2 separate regions of the Homo sapiens genome follow, and region 2 is linked to region 1. The links come from fine-mapping of genetic effects on gene expression. A gene starts in region 1. The other region holds a variant in brackets. All regions are shown on one strand. Distances are from middle to middle.

Evidence for each region. PIP is the estimated chance that this variant, and not a neighbour inherited with it, causes the effect.
Region 2: its variant is fine-mapped to the expression of ZFPM1 in whole blood (TOPMed, PIP above 0.99).

What each region holds. Positions count from the first base shown.
Region 1 is chr16:88,448,399-88,458,541 of GRCh38, forward strand. It overlaps ZFPM1 (zinc finger protein, FOG family member 1), which reads left to right and starts at 4,882. Exons shown (of 10, transcript NM_153813.3): 1 at 4,882-5,280. The coding sequence starts at 5,241. RefSeq lists silencers at 4,607-4,906, 4,917-5,006, 5,467-5,596, 5,817-5,886, 6,827-7,536 and 1 more and enhancers at 7,877-7,926, 7,957-8,086.
Region 2 is chr16:88,542,608-88,552,750 of GRCh38, forward strand. No RefSeq gene overlaps it. Among named protein-coding and RNA genes, the nearest start is that of ZC3H18-DT, 14 kb to the right of the region's middle. The variant A/T (reference allele first, on the strand shown) is at 5,593.

The sequences.
Region 1 (10,143 bases):
CACAGCAGCAGCAGCCCCTGCCCAGGGTGGCCCAGGCAGCATCCCAGAGCCAGCCAGACCACCCCCCATGGCGAGTGGCCTCCCGATTCCTAACTTAATTTATTTTGACATCTCCGCTGCCGCCTGACCTCCTTATGGAGTCATGTGGTATTTAAAACTCATTATCCCCCCCATTGAAACAGGAAGTTAATTAAACCCTTCACAGAGCCAGCTTTGACAAATGTCAGAATGGGCCCCTGGCACGGCTGCCCGGCGGCGCCAAGGCCTGGGGATGACTGGCAGTGGGGGAAGTGAGGCCCTGCCCGGGCGGGGACCACGGGAGAGGTCCTGGGGTCCCTTCCCCTCACTCAGCCACCCCTGTGCGTTTCAGAGCATGCGCGTCCCCGAGAGAGTCCTGCCCTGCGCTTCCCTGCTTTGCTGCTTCAGGCGAGTGACTTCCCCTCTCTGAACCTCTGTTTACAAATCTGGCAAATGGGAATTCTGACAGCTCCTTCTGCAGAGAGCTGCTGTGAGCAGAGTGTGCCGACATATGCAAATGTGCAGCCTGGCTCGGAAGGGCCCTCCGCAGTGTCTGCTGTGGCTGCTGCTGTAGGAGGGCAGCGCTGACTGCGGAAGAGGAGACAGCTGGGCCTGCCCTGCACTCTGGGACAGAGAGACCTGAGCCTGCCTGGGGCACTCAGTGGATTCCCTCAGGAGGGGTGGGCAGACCAGGCCAGGCAACGGAGGGAAGGGTGCACCCAGCAGCCCAATAGCTTGTGCCAAGGGGGACCGCTGGACCCACATACAGGGAGGCTCCAGGATGAAGGAAGGGCAGAGCCTGAGGCTACGACACATGGCTCTTAGGAGGCCCCGCTGGCTTCACCCTTCCATCAGGGACCAGCCAGGGTGGGGGAGAGTGGGCAAGATGAGGCTGATGAAGGTTTGGAGCAGGGTGGGAGGGGCCTCTCAGAGCCATAAGGAAGTGAAGTCACAGATCCTGGTGACAGGCCAGCTGTGGGGAGTGGTGGGAAGCAGACAGAGGAGTTGGGTGCAGCCTGGTTCCGAGGCCCTCACGTGGCCTGACCTCCAGGTGCACCAGCCCTGCAGCCACTGCGGTCCCTGGTCCACCCACCCCGGCCTCCAGCTTCTGCCCCTGCACCCTCTCCGCCAGAAATGCCCTTCTCTCTCCCATCACTCTTTTTTGATCATCCTCTTCATCCTCATCCTTCAAGGTCCAGCTTAAGTTCCTAGAACATTCTGTGGCTCCTTGAGTCACAGCTCAACAGTCGGCCTGGCACATAGGTGGTGCCACAATTAGCCCCTCACCCATCCACAGCTGCTGCCCAGCCCCGGGTGGCCTTCCTGAGCTCTCCCCGGGAGACTGCCGAAGAGGAGACAGGTGGGCCTGCCCTGCACGCTGGGGCAGCTCGGCACTGGCCCGTCAGAGGAGCCAGGTCCATGGCCGGTAGCCCACAGGTAGGAGGGAAAGTGGCAGAGCCAAGACTCGAACCCAGTTTTCCCAACGTCCCATTCAGGGTGAAGAACATGCGCTCTGGAGTGAGAGTTCCTGGGCTCCCTCCCAGCTCCAGCACTTCCAAGACGTAGGACCCCTGAAAAGCAACTGGTCCGCTCCAAGCCTCAGTTTCTGCATCTGTAATATGGTGGTAACTTGAGCCCCCACCCCAGCCAGTTGTGCAAAGGTGGCACGGACCTGGCACAGCCTGGAAGCACAAAGTCAGTGCTGTGCTGGTGATGCTGACACAGGTCCCGGAAAGGGGAGAGGAGGCTGGGGAGCTGGGAGAGGAGGCCATCTCAGAGTGCCTCCTCCCTTACCTCCAAATGTACAGGGTCGGCAACGCACAGGAGAACCTCCCCTGAAACCGACCCAGCATCAGGGGCAGGGCTGAGGCAGAGTAGAAGCATAGTAAGGCATTTGCCCCATCACACCCCTCTACTCCTAATAGAAGGCTGGAATTCCATGTCCACTGGCCCAGCCCACCCCTGCACACCCCCACTTCTCAAACCCCAAAAATGTCTTCTTTGGGCTGAGGTTGTTTTTGGAGGGGAGGCAGTCTCCAGGCCACTGCCAGACAGCACTTCCTATGTGTTCCAGGCCCTGCTCTCCCTGGGAGCCAGCAGGGGAGAACCCAGTGCAGCTCCTGAATGCAATTCCAACTTCCCCACCAGTGACTTTGGATGTGAATCTCAACACACCTCGAGAACATGCAGGGGCAGATGGAAACTGGGGTTCACAATGGGCAGCAGGTGGGGGGTGGAGGTCCTAGGTGGGCTCAGCCTGGACAGCCTCAGCAACCCCACGCCCTGTTCCTCTCCCACCTGATCAGGGACTCCTGGAAAGCCCCACTTGGATGTCACCTTCTCCAGAAAGCCTTCTCTGATTTCCCCAGGCAGAGATGGCCGCTCCTGCTCTGGGCTCCCCCAGACCATCCTCTAGACAGCATGCCTTGTGTCTCTTCCTCAGTGTATGGTTATCGTCATGACCACCCTGAGGGTTTAATGGTGTGTGCAAGGTCCTGCAGCTTTACCACTCGACATCAGCAGGCAGCCTCCCCTCTTGGCTGCGGTTTTCTCATCTGTAATAATGCCTTCCTCCGGGCAGGTAGAGGGACAGAGTGTAGAAGGAATGTGCTACAAAAGCAGCCCTGGCAGGGTTAGGGGACCTGTGACCGGTGCAGGGGCACAGGGCCCGAGCTGGGAAGGGCACCACACCGGGCTCAACATCCTGCCCTTGATGCCCTGGGGTTTTGGGGTTTGGGGGTTTTGATCAAGGGGGCTCCACATTTTCATATTTTCATTTTGCATGGGGCCTTGCAAGTGATGGAGGCAGGGCAGCAGGCTGTGGTCTGGACCTGCCGCCTGCCCCCTTCGCTGGCTTCCCTGGGCATGTCCCTCCATGTTTTCATCTATATATGGGCTCATAGAAATAAATCAGATCAGGCAAAGCAGCAGCCAAAATGATCCCCATCGTCTCCTCCTGCAGCCTAGACAGACATCAATCATGGATGATCATGGCTGTCTCCTGTTGACCCTCGGAATCCACCTCAACACAGATCTCCGCCCGTTCCAGCAGCGCCAGCCTGGGTGCCACTTGCTGTGCGTGGAGCTTCAGACCCAGCCCAGGTGCCAGCCCATGGCCACCTCCTCCAGGAACTCCCCTAACTCACAGGTCCACATACTCTAAAGTGGACTTCTTTGGGGAAGGAGGCGAGGCCTGGTGGGAAACCCAGACAGGTAGGTGCTCCATCCAGTTGACAAGCACTGGGTGGGGGCGGGAGGGTGGGGGGGAGGTCCTAGGTTGAGTGAACCAATCAGACATGGGCCCCACCCCCTCCAGAGAGCAGCTGTGGGAAGGCTGTGCCCACTGGACCCTGGCAGAGAGCAGGAAGGGCTGGAGGACCCGTATGCCCCTGGGCAGCTCTCTTGGCCTCCTGGTCTCAGTGTTCCTGTCTGTCCATGGCAGTGGGGAGGGACGGCGCATATCCAGTGTTGTACCCCTGCCTCTCCTACCCACCCGCCACTCTCCTGTACCAGGCTCTGAGGGTAAGCCCCCACTTCTCCCCTTCCTTGGAGCCAGGGAATAGGTCACAGAAGTTGGCACGAGATGGGGTCTTAGGAGCTCCCAGCAGGCTGGCGGGTGGTGTGACAGTCCTGCTGTGCGATGATCTCATCATCAGGTGGGAGGGGTCCTTCCTGTCTGCCCCTGGGCCCACTGACGCCCGTTTCTTATGAGTACGGGGGATGGGGGAGCAGGTAGCAAGTGTAGACCGAGAACATTAAAAGGAGATGATACAACTCAGCTGGGAGTGGGGGACAGCCCCCCAATGCGTGACCTTGAGCAAGTCCCCGAGCCTCCGTGAAGTGGGGCTCTTGAACACACCCCAGAGGGCAACAGTTCTCCATTTCCAGGCCTGAGCTGACAGCACCGCGCCCACAAACCTCGCTGACCTCTGACTGCTCCGAGAGGGGGCTGTGGCCCGGGCGCTGTGGGCAACTCCTTCGTGGGTCTCCTGCGGGGCGCCCTGGAGAGGCTCGGTGAGGAAAGAGGCCCCAAGTGGCAACGCCCAGGGCTGCCGGCTCCCGCGCCCCCTCCTCGATTTCCAGCCTGGTCTGAGCTCACAGGGGAAGACCCGAGATCCTGCTCTCAGTTGGCGGACCCCACCGCAGTCTGGGACGGAAGCCCCCTCCCTGGCCCGAATCCGCTCCACACCCCAAGTCTGGCCCAAGAGAAACGTGGGCGTCAAGGCCTCGGGCTTCCTGAGCCGGTTGTCACTGCCCCCACCGCGCACGTGGAGCGTGCGGCAGAGCCCAGGGGTCTAGGGAGGGACCAAGGGCTGGGGGCGGAGTTACAGTGCGGGGGCGGAGCCTCGGCGTCTCAGGACCCAACCAGGTCGGGTCAGGTTTGGAGGCGGAGCTGGCGCCGAGAGGCGGGGCGCAGGATGCGGTGCCGCGGGGCAGCAGAACAGAACCGAATAGGTCTCAGACTCCCAGCGCGGCCTGGGGACATGACCTCCGGGCCAAAGAGGAGTGGGGGAGGCTAGAGGTCTCCCCGGGGCGCGGGCGGGGCCGAACCAGGAAGGGGCGGGGCATCGAGCGGGGCGGGGACAGTGCCTTGAAGGCCCAGACGGACAGGGGCGGGGCCGCAGCGCTGGGGTCGGAGCCAGCGCCGTAAAGAGCGAGGCGGGCGGGGGCGCGGTCGCGGCTCTGGGGGCGGAGCCAGAGCAACGAAGAGCCGGGCTGGCGGGGGCGTGGCCGCGGCGCTGGGGGCGGAGCCGGAGAGGTGCAGGGCCCGGCAGGAGGCACGGGGCGGGGCCGGAGCGCCGGGGGCGGGGCGGGAGGTGCGGCGGCCGACGACGCTCAGGCCCGGCCCCGCCCCGTGCCTCCAGCCCGCCAGGAGCGCCCTCGCAGTGGCCGCCTGCTCCGCCGCTCGCCGCCCGCGGGTTCCATTGAGAAAAGCCGAGCGGCCGCGGCGGCGGCGGCGAGTGCGCGGGAGCGGAGGAGCCGGCACCCGCCCGTCGGGCAGTCCGCGCGCCCGCAACGCAGGACCGTGGCCTCTCGGGCCTCCGCGGCAGCTCCAGCGGCTCCGGGGCTGGGCGCGCGGGCTGGGGGCGCGGGCCGGGGCGGCCGCGGAGACCGGGGGCCGGGGGCATGAGCGGCCCCGCGGCCCCGCCGCGCCCCCGCCGCCCGCCGCCGCCCGCCCGGGGCTAGAGGCGGCCGCCGGGAGGGCGCGCGGCGCCGGAGACATGTCCAGGCGGAAACAGAGCAACCCCCGGCAGATCAAGCGTGAGTCAAACTTTGCCCGCGGTCCCCTCCGCGCGCCCGACCCCCGCCGGAGCCCAGCCGCCAGCGCCGCCCCCGCCCGTCCCCGCTCTGCCCTGGGCGCCGGCGACCTTCACCCCGCGCCGCGCCCCCCGCGCTGTGCCAAGCGCGCCGTAATCTAATCTCCGCCGGCGGCCTGGGCCCCCGCGTCTCGGCTTGGGCACCGGGGGGTTCAGCCCAGGAGGGGGCCGCCCGGAGGCCGGGAGGAGGGTGTTTGGGGGCGCGGCCCGGGCAGCTCGGCCCCTCGCGGCCTGCCCCTCCCCCGCATCTGCGAGATGGTGCGGCGATAGGGCGGCCCCGATCTGGGCTCAGATAAAGTTTAAAATATTACATTCTGCAAGTCCCGTCCTGATAAGATCGTTCTGTCGGGACGGGCTGAAATTGTGATCTTATCTCGCGCGGTTGACTCTCCCAGGCTTTGTATCTAGAAGCGAAGAGAGAGACCTGGGAGGCAGAGGGGACACCCGGGGCCGCGGAGATGCCTGGCCAAGTGGCAGGCACCGGCCCGCGCCCACCCCCACCGGTGCCGTCGCAGAGCCGCAGGACAGGGGAGGGGGTAGCGCGCAGCTGCCGCAGCCTAGGCACTTGGCTCCAGCCCCCCAGACACCCCCACCCCGTGCCCTAGCGCTGAAGTCCTGAACCCAGGCCCCGCCAGCCTGGTGACACCTCCTGGACCCTGCAAGTGTCCCAGCCAAGGCGGCATGGGCAACAAATGGTGCCCTCGGATGCCCGCGGGCACCCCCTGGCATCCCAATGGGCTGCTCTGAGTCAGAGAAGGGCCTCCCAGGACGCAGCCCCGGGCCGGGGTCGCCCCTGCACGCCACTAAGTTTCTCGCTGGTCCGGCTCCCTGCCCGGTCAGAGGCTGCTGCCCCGCCGCCACATTGCCAGTGCCCCCGCGATGAGAACTAAGCTGTCGGGGCCACTGTCTGGCCTGGGCCTCTGGGCTGTGCCAGGAGGGAGCAAGAGCACAGGAAGCTACCCTCCCCACCCTATGCCAATAATAACTTTGCGCCTCACAGTTAGGGCCCAGACGCAGGTCTTCCTCCCCGGGGCGCCTCCCCGGAGCCTGACGGGCAGGTCGTCTGAGCCCTGCCAGGAGGCCACGACGGAAACCCGCCCGCTGCCCAGCCGTAGGCGCCCGGGCACTACCTCCTTTGTCCACACGACCACTGCCACCAGGACCCCTTGTGCGGGGCCTGTGGGAGCTTCCCTACTCAGGAGGTCTCCCGAGGCGGGGGTCACAGGCATGAACCGGTTCCCGTAACCCAACTCCCTCAGCGCAAACGGGACCTGTTTTCCGAAAGTCGCCTTCTATCGTGTCAACTCAAGTATTAAAAGCCACCCACAGGTCCCGATCCGCGCTTGTGCTCTGGTTTCTTTTTCCTTCCTTCCCTGAGCGCCTATGTTCGGTTCTGGGGTGTGTGTGTGTGTGTGTGTGTGTGTGTGTGTGTGTGTGTGGTGTTTCACTGTGATGAGAAATGCAGATAGCTCGGACAGGGAGATCGCAGGTTGGAAACCGATCTCCAGCGCTGATAAGGCCGCCAGCGCCAGCGAGAGCCCGTAGCCCAGCCCAGCGGGGCGGGCAGAGCGCGCGCACTTTGGGAACTGGGACCGCGGCGGGTGCACGGTGAGCCACCGCGGCCCATCCTCGTTGCGGCCCGGGACCGGGGCAGAGAAAGGGCCCGGACGAGGAAGGCAGGGCCGCGGACCCTCCCTGTCGCTCGCGGCCCGGGGCGCCTCCTCCCCATGGCAGATCTCAGCACGTTAAGATGCGAAGGCTGATTGTCACCAAGCGGCGGCGCCCGCCCGCCCGCCCTCTTGCCAGCGCCTGTGCCTGCCCGCTGCCCTGGCCTCACCTGCGGCCGGGCCGCGAGTGCAGAGCGGAGGGGGCCGAGCGCTTCGGGCCGCCCACCCCCCACCCGCGCCCCCATCAAAGCCCTGGCGCAGCTGCCCGCGCCTCTGTGCGCCTTTTGTTCCGTGCGGAGATAGATGTGCCGCGCTGATAAGGCGCGCAACCGATGGTGGCTGAGATAGGCGCTTCCATTTATTAACTTCAAACGTGGGAGCGGGGGCAGGGCGAGGCGGGAGCGCGGCCTTGGCCGGCCAGATGGCGGAGGCGATAGGCCGGGCTGCCGACGGGGAGCGCGGGGCCGGGGCAGCTCGGGACCCCCGGCGCCCCCAGCCCGCTGGGTTTTCCTCCCGCCCGAGTCGATGTGAGCTCCGATAAGAGCCTGGCCGGTCGGCCCGATGGCGATCGCCAAGAGCGATAAGAGGCCTTATCTTTGGCCACCAGGCCCGGCCGGGTTGGAGAACAGCGCGGGGGCGCCGCGACTGGGGCGAGTGGGGGCTTGGAACGGCCCGGGTTGGGGCCGGGGAGCCGGCGTCCCTGCGCTGGTCTGTCTGGGGGAGTTTTCTCCCCAAACACACTTAATTGCCAAGAAGTTGATCCTCCCCTGTGGCCGGTGGTACAGTCCGTCAAAATGAAAGAAAACTGGCTTTGCCCCGGCCAGGAGGGGGAAGGGGGAGGACACCCCGCCCCGAGTCCTCGTAGATGGTGCGAGACCGCTAGAGGTGGGTTTGTCACCTCCAGAGGGAGAGAGGGTGTTTTCCCCTTGAATCATGCTGGTGTTGCTGGTAGTTCCTAGCAAGAACCAAGTGTACACTGCTTGGAGTTTTCTTGAAAAAAAAAAAATCAAGGTGGTTTCCATGGCCCAGACTGCTTTGGGGGAGGCCAGTGTACCCTGGTGTGGAGGCGCTGCAGACCTGCCTGGGCTGAGCACTGTTTGCTGAGCACTACTGCATACAGGCCCTGGGTCCCAGTGGCAAACGAGAGGGGCAGAGGGGGCAGCCAAGGGGAGCAGGGGGCACGTCAGGTGGTCAGGGACACTTCTTGGAAGGGGGTGACCTTTGGCACAGTAGGGCTGGCCTCAGTTTTCCACTGCTGTCGGGGGAGCAAGGGCTGAGAGGCGCCTGGGGCTGGGGGGCCAGCCTGTGCCAGCAGGTGCGAGTGAGGTCGGGAGTGATGGAGTTGGTCAGGTCCTTGGTCTCCCACTCTGAAAAATGGAATCAGGAATAGGTCCCCAGGGCTGTGGGAGTCCCCAGGTCAGGCTGGAGATATTGAGGGTCCACCGAGGCACTTTGCAGTGGAAGGGCCCATGGATCCCACAGGCCAGATAGAACCCTAGGCCATCTGGGTAGGGCCTTCCGGAAGGAGCCGGGGAGGGAGGGTCCCTGAGCCCCTCCTATTCCAGCCCAGGCAGCTGCTGCAGCTCAGAACAAGGTGTTTTTCACACACTCTCAGAGTTTGATTAAACAAATTATTGGTAACCACAGGATGACTAATTCACTCCAAGCTTCAAAGTCACCCACCTGCTCTCCCCAGCAGCCCAACGCCCACCCGTGGGGCTGGCAGTGCCATCTGGCAAGGGCCATTTCCAGTTCCAGAGAGGGCTGGGTTGGGCCCAGAGGGAGATGGGGTGGTTTCTGTGATGTGTTATGAACATGAGTGGGATGTCAGCACAGAGCCATCCACACTGGCCTTCCATGCGTGGGAGGCACCCGGGTGTTGAGGCTGTCAGAGGCCACCTTACCATGCTCATGACCCAGAGTGGTGGCAGAGCATCCAGGAAAGAAGGGGCTTTGGCAGCCTGGCTGACCCTGGTGCTGAACCACAGGGGACAAGTTACTGTGCTTTCCACAGCTCTCAGTTTCCCCCTGTTGGAAACATGGATATGATAGTGTCTGCCATCCAGGGGCTGCAGGTCCTGCTCTCAGCTTACCTGGTCCTTGGCCCAGTTGCCTCGTCCCCAGTCACCATCCTGAGGGGAACGGTGCCTGCAGCCTGCTTGATGCTTAGGCTGCGAAGCCATCATTGTCATCTCAGAGTCCTGATCCCAGCCACGTTTTTCTCTCTTTCTCTCTCTTTTTTTTTTCCTTAGTTAAAATTTTTTTACAAAATAGACATGGAGTCTCACTACGTTGCCCAGGCTGGTCTTGAACTCCTGGGCACAAGCTATACTCCCAGCTCAGCCTCCCAAAGCACTGGGGTTCCAGACACGAGGCACCGCACCTGCCCTCAAGCCACATTTAGCAGAGGGAATTAGAGATCGGGAGGTACTCTCAAGGCCCCCCACCCCTAAACCTGGACTCCAGCAGGGTCTGGCGGACCCCGGAGTCCACGCCGTCACCCAGCTCTGGGCCGATTGTGGTTTACCCCCTTTCCTGGGCCTTAGGGAAGGCAGACAGCTCATGATCATTTGATGGTAAGAATAATATTCATAACAGCCAATGCTTAAGAGCCCTCTCTGTGCCAGGCTGTGTATTAACTTAAAGCAGGTCCTCTTCTGATCACTATTTTACATCTGGGGAAACTGAAGCACAGAGAAGTTTCTCGCCCAAGCAAGTGATGGAGCTAGAGTTGGAACCCAGGCGGCCGGGCCTGCGCTCCTTAAGGGTGTGTCCGTGAGCACCGCGCTGCCTTCTCTCCATCCTCCGGCTTCTGTCTGCCCTGCCACCCTGAGCCTCTCTCAGCCTCAGTCTCCACATCTGTGAAATGGGCCTTTGGGACCAGAGGCCCTCTGAGGTCTTTCCCCAGATGGCCTCCTTCCTAAGACATGACTGCAAGGGGGAGGGGGTCCCCTGGGAGGCTCATCCGGGCCTTCCTTGGGCCTGGGACTGCCGTCAGCCCCGCCAGCCCCTCCCTGGAGGTCACCAGGAACCCAGTGTGGCATCCAGCACCACTGGGGATTTAAATGGGTCAGTTGGAGAAGAAAGGAGGAGGGAATGTGATGCCATTAATTGTGCCCCTTATCTCCTGTTTCTATGCC
Region 2 (10,143 bases), 94 kb after region 1:
CACAGGAAGGCCGGAGACAGGGAGGAGCCTGGTGGGAAGACATTGTCAGGGAGGGCGAATTATAAATGAAGAGATGCGGCTGGCACCAATCAGATGGGCGGTGCGGGAATGGGAAGCACCAGGTGCCAGCAGCAGGTGGATAGGCAGCTCCAGTGCACCTGGCGGGCAGGTGCAGCCCCCTCAAATGCCGCCTGGCCATGGATGGTGGAGATTGCTGGGTCACAAGCCATCCCAGCACAACCTCCTGGCGTTGCGTTCTTTCTTCCTTAATAGCATCCTGTAAATGTTCATTAATGAGGGCCTGACTGGGCAAAACTATGCTACTGTTTTCTCTGAAAAGCTTTTATTGTGCCATAATTCTTGAACGAGAAGTTGGCTGGACACTCCATCCAGCTTGACAGTTCACTTTTCTCATTCTTTGAAGATGTGCTAGGCCTGGCATGGTGGCTCACGGCTATAATCCCAGCACCTTGGGAAGCCAAGCCGAGTAGATCACCTGAGGTCGGGAGTTCGAGACCAGCCTGACCAACATGGATAAACCCCTGTCTCTACCAAAAATACAAAAAATTAGCCAGGCGTGATGGCACATGCTTGTAATCCCAGCTACTCAGGAGGCTGAGGCAGAAGAATCACTTCAGCCCGGGAGGCAGAGGTTGCAGTGAGCCGAGATGGTGCCATTGCACTCCAGCCTGGGCAACAAGAGTGAAACTCTGTCTCAAAAAAAAAAAACAAAGGAAAAGATGTGCTTCCACTTTTCTCTGACTCTCATTGTTGATGAAGAGTAGTCAGCTGTATTTCTTTATCATCACCTCTTTCAGGATCGGTTCACCGTTAACAGCCTGCAATTGTATACAGTTCACTAAGTGTGCATCCTCGTTGGCATTCCTACATCCGAGAATTCTTACCTTTCAACATTTTTGAAAAATCCCCAGCCATTTTGTTTTTGAATGTTGCCTTTCCCCATTCCCTCTGCTCTCCTTTCTGGAACTCTGATTAGATTTATATTAGATTCTCTTCTCTACTCTGTACTTCTTAGCTTCTCTTTCAGATTTTCTATCTCCTTATCTCTCTGCACTCCTAATGGGTCATTTCTTCTGATCTACTTTCTGGTCAATAAATTCCCTCTTTACCAGTGTGTTATCTGTTGCTTAATCTGCGGTGAATATTTTTTATGGCATTTTTCATTTCTAAAGTTGAAAACGCACATTCTGATGATGGTGGTGATGGTGACAATAGTGTGTGATAATGATGATGATAGTGACGATCATGGTAATGATGAAAATAATCAGTACAACTATCAAAGATTGGCCAGGCACGGTGGCTCACACCTATAATCCCAGCACTCTGGGAGGCCGGGTGTGGTGGCTCACACCTGTAATCCCAGCACTTTGGGAGGCCAAGGCAGACAGATCACAAGGTCAGGAGTTCGAGACCAGCCTGGCCAATACGTGAAACTCCGTCTCTACTAAAAATACAAAAATCAGTCAGGCATGGTGGCTGGCGCCTGTAGTACCAGCTGCTCGGGAGGCTGAGGTAGGAGAGTCACTTGAACCTGGGAGGCAGAGGTTGCAATGAGCCAAGAAGCCAAGATCGCACCACTGCACTCCAGCCTGGACGCCAGAGCAAGACTCCGTCTCAAAAAAAAAAAAAAAAAGAAAAAAAAAAGCACTACCAAAGATCATCATTGTTGGCTGCACTTGTGGTTTCAGGCAGGTAGCCTTGGCGAGTTTGTTCATACCTCATGATCATTGGAGCTGAGATTTGCAAACTGCTCAGTGCAGCCCTGACTCCCTGTGAGTCAAAAGCCACTTCTCACCTCACCAGGAGCTGTGGTGTTTGTTGGGTGTCAATGTACGACTTTAGTTGTTGTTGTTTTAAAGTTCTACTGTGTGTTTTTTTAAAGGACCAGTGAAATTTGAAAATAGCCAAGGAAAAGAAAACTGGTTCCCACAATCACAGACACCACCATGGAACACACCAAGGCAATTTCTTCATTATAAAAATTTTATTATGAAGAGACAGGGGCCGGACGGGGTGGCTCACGCCTGTAATCCCAGTACTTTGGGAGGCCAAGATGGGTGGATCAAGAGGTCAGGAGATTGAGACCATCCTGGCTAACACGGTGAAACACCATCTCTACTAAAAAAATACAAAAAATTAGCCAGGCGTGGTGGTGGGCGCCTGTAGTCCCAGCTATTCGGGAGGCTGAGGCAGGAGAATGGCGTGAACCCGGGAAGCGGAGATTGTGGTGAGCGGAGATCGCGCCACTGACTCCAGCCTGGGTGACAGAGCGAGACTCTGTCTCAAAAATAAATAAATAAATAGATAAAATAAGAGACAGGGTCTCACTATATTGCCCAGGCTGGTCTGTGAACCGCTGTGCTCGATTGGTCCTCCTGCCTCAGCCTCCCAAAGTGCTTGGATCACAGGCATGAGTCGCCGCACCTGGCCAACACGGGGGCAGTTTTTGATGCAATGTCTGCAGTGGCTGGAGGGAGCTGGGCTCCTGCTCACATCATGCTTTGTGCTTCGGTTGCTCCCACTTCAGGGCTGCACTCACCCTCCCTCAGCAAACCTCAGACTTGGAAGAGGCTACCATGAGGGTGTGTGGCTTGGTTTAGACCTTGTTGACAAAGAAGTCAGTTAATCCCAAGTTCAGTAACTAATAAACATCAGCACATGGTAACACACAGTCTAACTACTAGTTTTTTTGTTTTTTTTTGTTTTTGGGTTTTTTTTTGAGACGGAGTCTTGCTCTGTCGCCCAGGCTGGAGTGCAGTGGCTCCATCTTGGCTCACTGCAACCTCCGCCTCCCAGGTTCAAGCGATTCTCCAGCCTCAGCCTCCTGAGTAGCTGGGATTATGGGCCTGGGCCACCACGTCTGGCTCTGTGAGTCAGCACAGGGAATCTTACCATGGACGCTGCCGGGAGATGCAGGGCCACTCAGGTGTGCACGTACACTGGATTCAAATACAGGCAGCAGACATAGACAACGATGCCGGGAGAGGGGCGGCTGGCAGAAGAATGGCCCCAAAGATGCCTGTGTTTTCATCCCCAGGGGGAGCCTGTGAAGGCGCAGCCTCATGCAGCAGAGGGGAGTTAAGGCTGCAGGGGAAGTTGAGGTTGCTCATCAGCTGACCCAAGATACAGAGATTACCCTGGATCATCCTGGTGGGCACAGCATAATCACAAAGTTCTTATCAGTGGAAGAGGGGTCAGGAAGAATACCAGAGAGGTGGGATGGGAGGACTCAATGGGCTTTGAAGATGGGGGGGGTGCCATGAGCCAAGGAACGGGGAGGCTTCCAGAATAAGCAGCTGGTTCTCCTCAGGAGCTCCCAGCTGGGGCCAGCCCTGCTCACGCCTGGACCTCAGCCAGTGAGACCCGCTTCAGTGAGCCCCACTGGCTCCTGAAGGCTGCTGCACCTGACTCAGGATAGCTGGGACTTGGAGTAGGGTGGGACACAGGGCACAGAGGGCCGGCCAGGGCTGCAAAAAGATCCCGGTGGCACCTCATGAGCTGGGGACAGGGGTCCTGTGCCCGACCATCTTGCGTCTCTTTTTGTTTCTACCTTTGCAATAATAATAATACAAGTAAAGTCAGATAGAAGTTCAGGAAGCATGCACATGGGATGCTCCAGTCTCCAGCCAGCACGAGGAAATCATCACTCTCCAATCAAAGGCAGAGGGCGAACAATGGCGCCATCACGGTGCACTGCAGCCTCAACCTCCTGAGCTCAAGGGGTCCTCCCACCTCAGCCTCCTAGGTGCTGAGGACCACAGGCGTGCAGCACCATTCCCAGCTATTTTTTTTTACTTTTTGTAGAGATGGCATCTCACTATGTTGCCCAGTCTGGTATCCACCTCCTTACTTAAGCAATCTTCCTTCCTCAGCCTCTCAAAGTGCTGGGATTACAGGCATAAGCCACCGCACCCAGGCCCGAGGTTGAGCTTTTGAGTGGCTGTCACCCTACTTTCCACAACAGTCACACCGATTGCTGTTCCCATCAGCAGTGCATGCCAGGCCTCCACATCCCACCAACACATGCTGCAGCACTGTCTGACTTCAGCATCTGAATGCATGAGAAGCGGAGTCTCACTGGGGCTGTAATCTGCATTCTCCAGTGACCGGCAGTGCCACGCAGCATCCCCCTGCTCACTGGCCACTGTATGTCTATGGAGAAACATCTGTCCAGACCCATCGCCCATCTCTGCACCTTTCTGCTCATTTCTAAGGTGAGAAAACAGAGGGTGGACAAGGTGAGGGAAGAGAGGGTGGAGAAGGCGAGGGGACAGAGGGTGGGGAAGGTGAGGGGACAGAGGGTGGAGAAGGTGAGGGGACAGAGGGTGGAGAAGGTGAGGGGACAGAGGGTGGGGAAGGTGAGGGGACAGAGGGTGGAGAAGGTGAGGGGACAGAGGGTGGGGAAGGTGAGGGGACAGAGGGTGGAGAAGGTGAGGGGACAGAGGGTGGAGAAGGTGAGGGGACAGAGGGTGGGGAAGGCGAGGGGACAGAGGGTGGGGAAGGCGAGGGGACAGAGGGTGGGGAAGGCGAGGGGACAGAGGGTGGGGAAGGCGAGGGGACAGAGGGTGGGGAAGGCGAGGGGACAGAGGGTGGGGAAGGCGAGGGGACAGAGGGTGGGGAAGGCGAGGGGACAGAGGGTGGGGAAGGCGAGGGGACAGAGGGTGGGGAAGGCGAGGGGACAGAGGGTGGGGAAGGCGAGGAGAGGGTGGGGAAGGCGAGGGGACAGAGGGTGGGGAAGGCGAGGGGACAGAGGGTGGGGAAGGCGAGGGGACAGAGGGTGGGGAAGGTGACCGGACAGAGGGTGGGGAAGGTGCGGGGACAGAGGGTGGGGAAGGTGCGGGGACAGAGGGTGGGGAAGGTGAGGAGACAGAGGGTGGGGAAGGTGCGGGGACAGAGGGTGGGGAAGGTGACTGGACAGAGGGTGGGGAAGGTGACGGGACAGAGGGTGGGGAAGGCGAGGGGACAGAGGGTGGGGAAGGTGACCGGACAGAGGGTGGGGAAGGCGAGGGGACAGAGGGTGGGGAAGGCGAGGGGACAGAGGGTGGGGAAGGCGAGGGGACAGAGGGTGGGGAAGGCGAGGGGACAGAGGGTGGGGAAGGCGAGGGGACAGAGGGTGGGGAAGGCGAGGGGACAGAGGGTGGGGAAGGCGAGGGGACAGAGGGTGGGGAAGGCGACGGGACAGAGGGTGGGGAAGGCGACGGGACAGAGGGTGGGGAAGGTGAGGGGACAGAGGGTGGGGAAGGTGAGGGAACAGAGGGTGACAACCATCCAAGTGTGAAACTCATGGGTATGTGCTTGGGCTGCAGACACCCTGGCCTCACCCCACCTTGGCCCTTTTGATCCATGAGACTGCACAGTTCCCCTCCTGGACCCTTGGTTCCCCCCACACCCAGGAGGCATAGAACAGGCAGGACATCCTGTGGCCAGAAAGATGATCGGGGGTCTCCAGGGCACGGAGCCCCCACCCACACACTACAGTAGGGATTGACAGCAGCCTGACCGCCACTGCCCTTTCCCCTGTAAGGTGGGGTTCCCAGTGGATGGCCAGAGGGTCCCACCCCAGTGGCTCCA[A/T]TCCCCACCCTCCACGTCAGCACCAGCCAGGTGGTCACCGTCAATGACCCTGTCACCCTCCCGGGGGAAGGGGCTTCCAGGCCCACAGCCCTGGCAGGTTCATGTGGGGCACTGGCCCTCTTCCTGCCCCACCCACCAGCCCTGTGGTCTGGGCGCCTGGCTCACACCTCCCTTCCTCCCACACGCACCAGCCACAGGCTCCAGGGTCTCAGAGGAACTCCTGGGACATCCCTTTATCTGGCACCAAAGCCCGGGGCAGGGCCTGCATGTTGACCGACTGCCTTCTCTGCTCTGGCTGGGCTGAATAGCTGGGCCCAGCTCCCTCCCGGGGACTCTTCCCCCAGCCAGGGTTCACCTGAAGGCACCAGTGAGGCAGCGCCACCCCGAACAGGGGTCCCCAGACTTTGGAAAAATCACAAACCAGAAAACTGTCGACAATCACTTCCGGGTTAGCATAGGACTCTAACCTTATGTTTTTTCCAGATACTGACATTAATTTTTTTAACTATTGCTCAATAGTCTCAATATCTCATAAAAGCACCTTTTAGCACCAAATACAGTAGGATAGCACAATCTCTGCACAAAAAGCCTTTTACACGAAAGTATTATTTTTTTTAATAGAGACGAGTTCTCCCTATGTTGCCCAAGCTGCTCTCAAACTCCTGGGCTCAAGCGATCCACCTGCCTTGGCCTCCCGAAGTGCTGGGATTACAGGCGTGAGCCACCGCGCCCGGCCCACATGAATGATTTATTCCACTTGGCGCTCCTTTTCCTCGTTTCACTGTACATCGATGAAGACATTGGCACCAACGCACAGGTCCATGGATCAGAGTTGAGGAAAGTCTGTTCCAATCTTAACCCTTTTGGTGCTGGCTTTGTTTTACTGAAGACGAAACAGAGGGTCCAAGTGGTTACATCCCGAGCGCCGGCAGTGGCTGCACGAGGCAGGACTGCCTCCAGCTCTAACTGTACTGCACCTGCACCCACCAGCCAGGGTCCGCCGCTTTCAGCCGGAATCCATAGACAATTCACACGGCAAAGAGAGGAGACCAAGCTTGGGTTTCAAAATGAGCTGAAATATCAAAGCAGAATAAAGTCACTTCTTTAAACGTGGGGCCATTTCAGAGTTAATTTCACAAAAGGAGACATCGTGTTGCTTCAAACTGCTGTGCAAACATCAGAGTGACTCGTTATCTAAGTCTCAGTCAGAAACACTGGCAGTCACTTCTGATCTGCGTTAGATTGTAAGTCATTTGTTCTCCTCTAAATAGCAACAAGAGGCCGGGCATGGTGGTTCATGCCTGTAATCCCAACACTTTGGGAGGCCGAGGCAGGTGGATCACAAGGTCAAGAGATCAAGACCATGCTGGCCAACATGGTGAAGCCCTGTCTCTACTAAAAATACAAAAATTAGCCGGGTGTGGTGATGCGCACCCATAATACCAGCTACACGGGAAGCTGAGGCAGAAGAATCACTTAAACCTGGGAGGCAGAGGTTGCAGTGAACCGAGATCACGCCACTGCACTCCAGCCTGGGGACAGAGCGAAACTCCATCTCAAAAAAAAAAGAAAAAAAGAAAAGAAACTCTGAAGTCAGTCTGAAGCCTGGGAGGGACAAAGGTGTTTTGCAGGTTCCTGCAGCTCAGGCACCCAGCGGGGGCTCACTTGAGAGGGTTAAGAGGGTGAGTGCCTGGGAGGAGCCTTCAATCAAAACTTAGCTGTAGCTGAGTCCAACTGTGTGGTACCTCCCCAGCACAGCCCTCTGACCTGGGAACAGGCCCAGAGAACACAGAGGGAGTGAAGGTTGGTTATCTCCCCCTGAGGTCTGCGCTCCTACCCCTGGCTCCTGATCCGAGCCCTTGCTGTCAGAGAAGACAGGAACCTCACACTTCCTGAACACGCGCAATGCCCCTACCAAAACACGGGAGCTGCAGGCGGGCCTTTGGTCTTCTTCTGCTCCGTGCCCATTGCCATCTTCCAGAAGACACACATCATGCCTGTTCTCTCCTTCCACGCCAGGCCAGGGGAGAGGGTGGCCCCCACCCCAACCCCAACTCTGCTCCAACCGAAGGAGCCTCCTCCTGTGTGCACCCCCGTCCCCAGCACGGCGCAGCTCTACCACCAAACAGACAAAGCACAGCCAGCTCTGATTGACCCAGGGAGGCCGGGGACCTTGCCCTCTGGAGCAGCCCACATGGCCCACGGATGGCGCAGTGGCCCCCACACAGAAGGCTGCCCTTGGGCTCCTTTCCGGAGCGGCATGGCCCGGAGGAAGTGGCCAGGTAGCAAGGCCAGGCTACAGTGAGGCTGGCGGAAAGAAGAGGAAATGGGCGTGGACACCATCTGCCGGACTCAGAGCCCTGGGGACTCAGGCAGTCTGACAGCAACCTTGGCCCATGAAAACACGGAGCCTAAGGGGCTCCCGGGAGAGGACAGTCCAGGCTCCGAGCCCAGCTCAGATGAGAGGCTGCCCGGATAATGACCTTCAGAGGGCTCTGCTCATCATTACATGAAATTATGCAAATGAGACTTTATGTATTTATTTAAGAGTCTCTGTTGCCCAGGTTGGAGTGCAGTGGTGTGATCTGGGCTCATTGCAATCTCCACCTCCCAGGTTCAAGTAATTCTCATGCCTCAGCCTCCCAAGTAGATGGGATTACAGGCGTGAGCCACCGTGCCTGGCCAAGACTCTTTTAAAATGCGAATTCAGGCCAGGCGAGGTGGCTCAGGCCTGTAACCCCAGCACTTTGGGAGGCCGAGGCAGGTGGATCACCTGAGGTCAGGAGTTCAAGACCAGCCTGGCCAACAGGGTGAAACCCCGTCTCTACTAAAAATACAAAAATTAGCTGGGTGTGGTGGTGTGGGCCTATAATCCCAGCTACTTGGGAGGCTGAGGCAGGAGAATTGCTTGGACCCAGGAGGTGGAGGTTGCCGTGAGCTGAGATCACGCCACTGCACTCCAGCTTAGGCAACAGAGCGAGACTCCGTCTCAAAAAACAAAAAACAACAACAAAAAAAAACCCACCCCATTAGCAGCCGCCTGCCTCTCCCCCTCCCCAGCCCAGACACCCCCAGTCCTTACCCCTGCTGTGGCTTTGCCTGTTGTGTGCATTCTGGAGACACAGAGGCACACGCATGTAGCCTCTCGTGACCGGCATCTTTCACTCTGCAGAAGGGTCTCAAGGTTCGTCCCAATGTAGCCTGTGTCAGCGTTCCACTCCTTTTTATGGCTGAAGAATTTTCCAGGCACAGATGGACCCCATTTCGTTTTTCCATTCACTCATCAATGAGCACCTGGTCTTGTCACATTTTTATTTTTCATTTACTTATTTATTTACTTTTTGAGACAGGGCCTCACCCTGTCACCCTGGAGTGAGGGTGGAGTGCAGTGGTGTGATCTCAGCTCACTACCACCTCAAATTCCTGGGCCCAAGTCATCCTCCCGCCTCAGCCTCCCGAGTACTTGGGACTACAGGTGTGCACCACCACACCCGGCTAATTGCTCTGTCGCCCAGGCTGGAGTGCAGTGGTGCAATCTCGGCTAACTGCAACTTCCGCCTCCTGGGTTCAAGCGATTCTCCTGCCTCAGCCTCCTGAGTAGCTGGGATTACAGGCGTGCACCACCATACGTGGGTAATTTTTGTTTTTGTTTTTGTTTTAGTAGAGATGTGTTTTCACTATGTTGGTCAGGCTGGTCTTGGACTTCTAACCTCAAGCAATCCACCTGCCTTAGCCTCCCAAATTGCTGGGATTATAGGCATGAGCCACCACACCAGGCCTGATTTTTTTTATTTATATTTTTTGCAGAGATGGGGGCCTCACTGTGTGCCCAGGCTGGTCTTGGACTGGCTTCAGGCAATACTCCCACCTCAGCCTCCCAAAGTGCTGTGTTTACAGGTGTGAGCCATTGCCCAGCCTCATCACATTTTTTAATGTGCTCATTGGCTGCCGACAGGTGCCAGCTCTGGACTGGGTTTGGTAGAACTGAACCCCGGGCTCAAGCCCAGCTCCTTCCGCTCCTGGCTGAGCTCCTCCTTCTCAGGGCTTCATGTCATTGTTCCTGAAATGAAGGCTGAAAAAGCCCTCTGCCTCCCACAGGGACACAACCTTGTCCAGGGGCTCCACCGCTGGGAAGCCTGGCCTCGCTGATCCTCCGGGTCTGTCTTCCCCGGCAACACACTTGTCCCTGGTCACGCCTGCCTGCCACAGGCTCTGTGGCTCCCAGCCCCACACTCCTGAGCCCTCTGGAAGACACACTGCCCCACACATGACCTTCCACACCCACTGGGCCCACAGGGCCCTGCTCCTCCTGACGCATGCCTCCAGCTGTGGGCTGTTCCAAGTGGCGGGAATGCCCTTCCCGTACTCCTCCATGTCCAAATCCTTCTCGGCACGGAGGGGCTGGGGCAATCTTCCTCTGAAACCCCCTCATTTAGAGGCTGTTTTAGGTTGAGCCGTGTCCCTAGCCCCAGGACCTGTGGATGTGGAACCAGGGTCTTTGCAGAGGTAATGAAGGTAAGATGAAGGGTCACAGCTCTGGGCTGCTGCGGC